2 separate regions of the Homo sapiens genome follow, and region 2 is linked to region 1. A link means that fine-mapping ties the variant in region 1 to the expression of a gene that starts in the linked region. Tissue or cell type: whole blood. Region 1 holds a variant in brackets; the other region holds the start of a gene. All regions are shown on one strand. Distances are from middle to middle.

What was found. PIP is the estimated chance that this variant, and not a neighbour inherited with it, causes the effect.
Region 2: it holds the start of CLYBL, and the variant in region 1 is fine-mapped to the expression of CLYBL in whole blood (INTERVAL, PIP above 0.99).

What each region holds. Positions count from the first base shown.
Region 1 is chr13:99,461,025-99,465,191 of GRCh38, forward strand. No RefSeq gene overlaps it. Among named protein-coding and RNA genes, the nearest start is that of LNCARGI, 30 kb to the left of the region's middle. The variant GTGGATGGATGGGTGGA/G (reference allele first, on the strand shown) is at 2,021.
Region 2 is chr13:99,604,766-99,608,932 of GRCh38, forward strand. It overlaps CLYBL (citramalyl-CoA lyase), which reads left to right and starts at 1,925. Exons shown (of 9, transcript NM_206808.5): 1 at 1,925-1,992. The coding sequence starts at 1,931. It overlaps LOC105370332 (a long non-coding RNA gene), which reads right to left and starts at 1,084. Exons shown (of 3, transcript XR_931674.3): 1 at 997-1,084. RefSeq lists enhancers at 788-1,767, 1,690-1,984 and a silencer at 1,706-2,265.

The DNA of each region.
Region 1 (4,167 bases):
GCACTTCTCCTTCCTGCTGCCTTGTGAAAAAGGTGCCTGCTTCCCCTTCACCTTCTGTCATGATTGTAAGTTTCCTGAGGCCTCCCCAGCCATGCTGAACTGTGAGTCAATTAAAGCTCTTTCCTTTATACATTCCCCAGTCTCGGGCAGTTCTTTATAGCAGTATGAAAATGGACTAATACAGTGGGAGAATTGCTTGAGCCCAGAAGTTTGAGACCAGCCTGGGAACATGAAAAAACCCTGTCTCTACAAAAATTACAAAACTTAGCTGGGCATGGTGGCATGTGCCTGTAGTCTCAGCTATTTGGGATACTGATGCAAGAGTCTTGCTTGAGCCCAGGAGGTCAAAGCTACAATGAGCCATGATCACGCCACTACACTCCAGCCTGGGTGACAGAGAGAGACCCATGACTTGATGCTTGTTATGCCTGCGTGATGGGTACGTGGAGAGTTCTTGTATATTCTCCCAATTTATGTGTAATTTAAATCTTTCCATGAGAGAGAGAGAAAAAAAATAGGCCTATTTCAGAGAAGGGAGTCATCTGATTTGACAAATGTTTAAAACAACTGAGTAAACTTCTTAACTTACTGAACCTCAGTTTATTCATCTATGATATGGGATTAATGATAACTATTTCACTGAAGAGTATTTTAATAAGAGAGTGCAAGGACAATACCCCTTTGTCCACATAATAAATACCTGTTTGTAATGAGACTTTTTTGCTTTGGTTACTTAAATAACCCACTAAGTATTTGATATCTCCAGGTAGGAAGTCTGCTGTTGCAACTTGATTGCAATAAATCATTTGGATTTGGGCAGCTTGCTATTTTTAATATAAATATGTGATTGGCTCCTGGCTTAGTATTTTAAATGGCCAGTGGATATTTTTTCCTGGACATCTCCAGCCCATAGTTGTCTGCCTATTCTCTATGAATTTGTAACCCCAGCCCCGCTGCTTTGTAGACCTCTCTTTAGAAGGATAAGGGCCACACTCAGCCCTCTCATAAGAGGGAAGACCCAAAGGCCATCTCAGCAGCACAGCCCATGGACATCTGCATTGCTACATTGAAACTGCTGAGGTTCGCTGGTCAATGCAATGATCCTCCACTGACCAGAGGAGGGGGGACATGAGTTCCCTGAGGACCCCTGAATCCCTGTCCACCATCAGCATGCATGAGCAGGCTTTGGCTCCTGATGGTTAGAAGTTGTAACCTTTAACTGCCTTGTTTGGAAATGAATTCTTCCCATATTTTCCCACTGGCTCTTGGAAGGATGAAAAATCATTTTGAAGGGAAAGAACCTGCTTATAATTTCACTTTGCAACTAGAAATGTATTTCTTTACTCAGACAAATGCAGATAAATTGGGAAATAACTTATTGGGAAAGAACTTAATGCTGTTCTCAATCCATGTGCGTTTTCTTTCTGAGTTCTCTCAGGTGTTTAAGCTTTCAGAATATGTAGTGAAAGGTGGCTTATGCCTGTAATCCCAGCGCTTTGGGAGGCCGAGGTGGGCAGATCATGAGGTCAGGAGTTCGAGACCAGCCTGACCAACATGGTGAAACCCCCGTCTCTACTAAAAATACAAAAATTAGCTGGGCATGGTGGCACACACCTGTAATCCTAGCTACTCAGGAGGCTGGGGCAGGGGAATTGCTTGAGCCCAGGAAGCAGAGGTTGCAGTGAGCTGAGATCATGCCGTGTCCAGAATTGATGGGTTCTTGGTCTCACTGACTTCAAGAACGAAGCCACGGACCCTCGTGGTGAGTGTTACAGTTCTTAAAGGCAGCGTGTCCAGAGTTTGTTCCTTCTGATGTTCAGATGTGTTCGGAGTTTCTTCCTTCTGGTGGGTTCGTGGTCTCGCTGGCTTCAGGAGTGAAGCTGCAGACCTTCGCGGTGAGTGTTACAGCTCTTAAGGCGGCGCGTCTGGAGTTGTTCGTTCCTCCCAGTGGGTTCGTGGTCTCGCTGGCTTCAGGGCGATGCACAACAAACAAACATTAATTGCATGGATGGATGGATGG[GTGGATGGATGGGTGGA/G]TGGATGGATGGGTGGATGGATGGATGGATGGATGGATGGGTGGATGGATGGGTGGATGGATGGGTGGATGGATGGGTGGATGGATGGGTGGATGGATGGGTGGGTGGATGGATGGGTGGATGGGTGGATGGATGGATGGATGGATGGATGGATGGATGGATGGATGGATGGATAGATGTGTGGGTAAGTAAGTGACCATATGAATCAATGGATAGAAGGGTGGATTGATGGATGGATGATTAGGATCCACTTTCTGTGTGTAGCTATCCCTCTGTGATTTCCGCATAAGATCTATGTTATGGGCTAAATGTTTGTATCCCCCACAAAATGTATATGTTGATGCCCTACCCCACAATATGATGACATTTGGAGGTGGAACTTTTCAGAGGTAATTAGGCCTAGATTAGGCCACAAGGATGGGAGCCACATGGTGAAATTAGTGCCCTTATAATAAGTGGGGGCACCAGAGCTTTCTCTCTTCCCATTTACATAAACCAAGGAAGGGCCATGTGAGCACACAGCAGCAGGAAGGTGGCTGTCTACAAGCCAGGAAAGAGCTCTCAAAAGAAGCAGATCTGCTGGCACCTTCCCAGGCTACAGAACTATGAGAAATGAATGTCTGTTCCTTAAGCCATCTATGGATAGAGGGATAATCTATCCACCTGGTTAACACCTTCCAGTCTATGGTATTTTGTTACAACAGCTCAACCTAAGGCAATCTGCTTCTGCCTGTAAGTATACTTCTGCATCCAGCTCCAAATGCACATGTGACTGCTTCTGTTCTGTGTGCCTGTGTGTCTGTGTATGTTTCTCCTTCTTCTGCATGTGGTTTCATTGAAAGGGCCAGTAATACTTTAGGCATTTCTGTAAAACAGTTATGATTATGGCTCCTATCTTATAAGATTGTTATAAGTGTTTGATATGATTATTATTTTATACTTATCACTATCGATCAGTAGACTTGAATTAAAGAAGTTCAAATTTATTTTGTCTTACATTATTATTCATAAAGGCAGTTTTAATGGTTAAGACTGGGTTTGTATCTCAGCTTTACCCACCATTCATCTATCTATCTATCCATCCATCCATCCATCCATCCATCGACAGCCTCAGTTTTTCCATCTGTAAAATGGACACAATAAGACTATTTCCCTAATAGCATAGAGTGAAATAATCCATGTAAACTGCTTAGTACAATGTCTAGCACATAGTAAGCACATACTGTATGTCAGCCAATAGAAAGAGCGGAGTTCAGTGGGAAATTATAGTACTTGAAGGGAGAAAAATCTACAGATACAGGTCATGATGAGGATGCAGTGGTGATGACTCTGCAGGCATCTTCCCAAGGCTCTGACTCCTCATGGGAGGACGGGGAAGACAGGTCACACTGAGTCTGTAATGGAAGGCATTCCCCACCCTCCACCCCAATAGATGGGATCGATGGTCATGGGTGTCGAGTGTTGCCTTTCTTCAGCGAGCAGGAATGCTGGCTTGTAGCCCTGTGGCATCTCTATGTTGAATGTCTCCCTCCAGAACTAGTTTGAACACTGATTCGTTCTGTGAGGACAGACCTCTGTGGATCCTTTATTGCGTTTTTCAACTGAATTTCTTAGCACATTCTTAACAAAACTGAAAGCAGATGTCTGTGTTTATAAAGTAAGATGAACTAGACACAGGAAATGTATTTACAAGAAACGCTAACGTATCAAGTTGAGGAAGGAACTTGTTCTCTTCTGTTTTTACGAAGTGAGAAGGTTAGAAGGTCAGCCATAGCCTTGTGTCTGGTTTTCTGGGGTGCCCCTGGCACTCTTGTTGGGGCTTCCTAATTCCTGGATCCTGTCCCTGTTGTGTGCAGACATGCATTTCTGTGTTGTTTCGAAGAAAAAACTGTTATTAAAAGACAATTTGGCACCATCTCTCAGGTTCAACTACCTGCATTTTCCTCCTTTGTCCCCCTCTCCACGATAATGACTAGAGGGTCCTGAGGTAGGTAATGACCGATGGGCAGAAGTGGGGAGAAAGGCCAGGGAAGCTAAGTCGTCATACCACCTGAAGATTCTGTCTGTATAAGCCCTTCTCAGCGCTGGGGCTGATGGCCACACCTGACATCCATCCTCTCCTCAAGGAACC
Region 2 (4,167 bases), 140 kb after region 1:
ATTATAACAAGCCTATGAGGTGATGAGGTATTTATACCCCCATTTTATAGATGAGGAAACAGAGAGCTTAAGAAACTTGACCAAAGTCACACAGCAAGTCAACTCTGGAACTAGGAGCTGCGTCATGCTTTTAAAAGGTCAGCCAGGTTTTATGGCAAACGGGTGATTGTAGGAGGGAAGAATGGGAGCAAGGAGGCTTTGAAATAATCCAGGTAAAGGATGATGATGTCCAGAATCAGACTTGAGTGAGGTGAGTGCAGCCCCAGCCTGGGATGCAAAATTTAAGGAGAAGTCTCAGTAATTACTGCACTCCAGCCTGGGCGACAGAGCGAGACTCCATCTCAGAAAAAAAAAAAAAAAAAAAGATAAGTAATATTGGCCTGGCATGGTGGCTCATGCCTGTAAGCCCAGCACTTTGGGAGGCTGACGCGGATGGATCACTTGAGGCCACGAGTTCGAGACCAGCCTAGCCAACATGGTGAAACCCTATCTCTACTAAAAATACAAAACAATTAGTTGGAAGTGGTGGCACTTGCCTGTAGTCCCAGCTACTCAGGAGGCTGAGGGGTGAGAATCACTCAAGCCTAGGAGGTGGAGGTTACAGTGTGTGAGCTGAGATCGTGCCACTGCACTACAGCCTGGGCGACAGAGCAAGACTGTCTCAAAAAAAAAAAAAAAGTAATATTCTAAACTAAAAACCAAGATAATGGAAAAATCCCATTATGAACAAAATATCAAAATTTTAATTAAAGACAGGATTGGTGTTACTGAAATTGCCTTTGCCTCAGGCTTCAGTATGGCTGGACCGGGCACTGGCTGGGACTAAGGTGGTGACAAGAAAGTGACCAAATTGGAGTAGACAGGCGAGGCCTGAGGTGGAGCAGGCGTGGGAGCTGGGGGAGGGCACCAAGGGGTTGAGCAGTCTCCCCTGTTGGTATCGAATATAACAATAATTCTTAGGCTCAGCAGAAGTTTAGCATCCATGTTCCCAGTCACCTGGACTTTTCCAAATCTTGGAACCCCCTCTGGCTGAAAAGGCTTTTGTTTGTTTAAACGGCCACTTTTTGCATCCAAGAGCACAAGTCAGCTTCCACTGGAAGGTTCTGAGAAACGGTTTCAGGTTTAAGTCTAGAGCATGAATGGAACGGAGTCACAGCTGAAAAAGAAACATGCCGAGTGCCAAGGAAAAGACATGGTTAAGGGGTAACATGGGCCCGGGTAGGTGAAGGTCGGCAGGTGGAGGCCGGCTGGATCAGGGAAGGTGAAAGAAGAGGCAGGGGCAGGGCCCAGCCTGTTTTAACGCCTCGGCGTTCTCACCGCTGCAGAACGGCTGCAGGGGGCAGAGTAAAGAGCTGCTGTCAGTTTCCCTGCCCAGAGAGTGCCAACAGCTGCTCTGACCTATTGCAGGCATGTGTGTTCCAGGATGCAGCCTTCCTGCACTTTGACCACTCTAGATTAATTGCTAACCAAGATATGCACATGATGGGGCTCACAAAGTATTAGGCGGTATTTTAACAACAAAAGCTGCGAAGAAATCCCTAGAAATGTTGGCTCTTCTGGCTGGGAAAACGCAGTCTGTCAACAGTTGCCTCAAAAACTCAGAAGCTCAGAGAGTTGGATTCGGTCACCAGAGAGGCCCCTCAAAGAGGCCCCAACCATTCAGATCCTCTGCTCTGTCCCCCATGACAGCGGGGACGAAGGTCCTAAGCCCTGGCCGGGAGGGCAGTTGACCTCGGGACTCGCCGCGGGGCGGAGCGGGTGCTGGGAGGAAGGAGGGCGTGGCTGGCGGGGTGTGGCTGGCGGGACGGGGCGGGGCGAAGACAGAGCGAGGCGGGGCCTGGGACGGGGGGGGGGTCGGTGTCGCCGTGGGGGCGTGGAATGTGGGGTGGGCGTGGCTAAAGGCAAAGGGCGGGGCGCGCGCGTCGGGAAGATGGCGCTACGTCTGCTGCGGAGGGCGGCGCGCGGAGCTGCGGCGGCGGCGCTGCTGAGGCTGTGAGTGCAGGTCCCCGTTCCCCGCCTTCCCGGCCCGGCTCGCCGCGGGTCGGCTCCTGTTGCAGCCCCGCGGGCCGGGCGCGGCCTCCCCAAGCCCTCACGGGAACCCAGCCGGACGGAAGCACCATGCGCCTCCCACGCGCTGGCTCGACCTCGTCCAAGGTCGCTGCCGCCCGCGCCTCCCTTTGGGAGGGCCCTCGTTGCACCCGGAAAATGGGTACACACCTTAGGTCGAATTACCTGGACTCAGCCCCAGGAAACAAAACTGCCTGCCTCCCCCAAATGGCAAACGTGAACGCGCCAGTCTTTGAGAGGCGGCTTGCCTGGTGAAGAACACCTGCGGTTCGTTTAACACAGCGGTTCCCAAACGGTTTGGTCTCAGGACCCGTTTACACGTCTAAAAATAATTTGAGGACCCCCCAAAGCTTTTGCTTATATCTATTGATTTTTGTGCATGAGGAATTAAACCAGAAATTTAAAAAATATTCACTTAATAACAAACCCATTAACTTTTAATACAAATAACACTTTAATGCATAACTTCTCAAAAAAAAAGTGAGAAGATTGGCTCATGGTTTTTATATTTTTGAAAATTTCTTTGGTTTAATAAAGGACAGCTGGAGTCTCATATCAGCTGTTTTGAAGGAAATATTTGAAAGAAATTCTGGGCTCATGCAGATGCAGATATTAGTTGGGAAAGGGAGGACCAAGCAGACCCTCTCAACGGGTCTCAGGGACCCCCTCAGGTGTCTTTGGACCACACTTTGAGAACCGCTGGTCTAGCACTTGCCCATCGCCTAGGTACGTGCACATACATGGTCTCATTTGGTTCCCTTGACCACCATGTGAAGAAGTTGGGTGTCATGTTTATAAAGATGAAAAAACAGGGTCAGAAAGGTTAAGGATTCTCAAAGCCCTATGACCAGTAATGAGAGAGTTTGGTTCAAACACTAAGTGTATGGCTCCTGGTCTGGAACTTCTTTATTTATTTATTTTTATTTTTTGAGACAGAGTCTCGGTCTGTCACCTAGGCTGTAGTACAGTGGTGTAATCTCGGCTTACTGCAACCTCCACCTCCTGGGTTCAAGCGATTCTCATGCCTCAGCCTCCTGAGTGGCTGGCATTACAGGTGTGCACCACCACCCCTGGCTAATTTTTGTATTTTTAGTAGAGACAGAGTTTCGCCATGTTGGCCAGGCTGTTCTCGAACTCCTGACCTCAAGGGGGTCCACCCGGATCAGCCTCCCAAAGTGCTGGGATTACAGGCGTGAGCCACCATGGCCGGCCTGGTGGTCTGGAACTTCTTTTTTTTTTTTTTTTTTTTTTTTTCCGAGATGGAGTTTCGCTTTTGTCGCCCAGGCTGGAGTGCAATGGCGCCATCTCAGCTGACTGCAACCTCCGCCTCCCGGATTCAAGTGATTCTCCTGCCGCAGCCTCCGGAGTAGTTGGGATTACAGGGCGTCCGCCACCATGCCCGGCTAATTTTTGTATTTTTAATAGAGACGAGGTTTCACCATGTTGGCCAGGCTGGTCTGGAGCTCCTGACCTCGGGTGATCCACCTGCCTCGGCCTCCCAAAGTGTTGGGATTAAAGGCGTGAGCCACCGTGCCCGGCCTGGGTCTGAACTTCTTACGTCTTCTTGCACTGTGACTCTTCAGTCACCCATGTCCTATGGGAGGACCCACCTAGTCTTATGCATCCCACTTTCCCATTTCCTCCGCTGCCCCTGGCACAGGGGAGTCACCCCTCGCCCTAGAGGAGCAGCTCAGGCAGTGTATCCAGGCTGGTCCAGAAGGGTCCTTTTCTGGCGCCTTTTGAGGGGGCCAGCGTCTGTGACCTGTTCAGTAGCGGGTCCAGTGAGCGCACACAGTCCCCACGCCAGTACGCTGGGGGTTAACTCAGTGCTCCTCACCCGCCTTAGCACACTGGTCTGTTCTCGACATGTCTACCCGCTGAATATAGGATTCTTGATTGGCATTTTTTTTCCTTTGAGCATTTTAAAGCGTATTATCGCACTGTCTTTTTGCCTCCATTATTCTAATGAGAATTCAGACGTTAATGTTATTAGGGTTCTATGTAAGTGATGAGTCTTTTTTTTTTTTTTTTTTTTTTTTTTTTTGCTTGATTTTCTCTTTGTCTTGGTCTTTCGGTGGTTTTATTATGATGTGTGTAGAT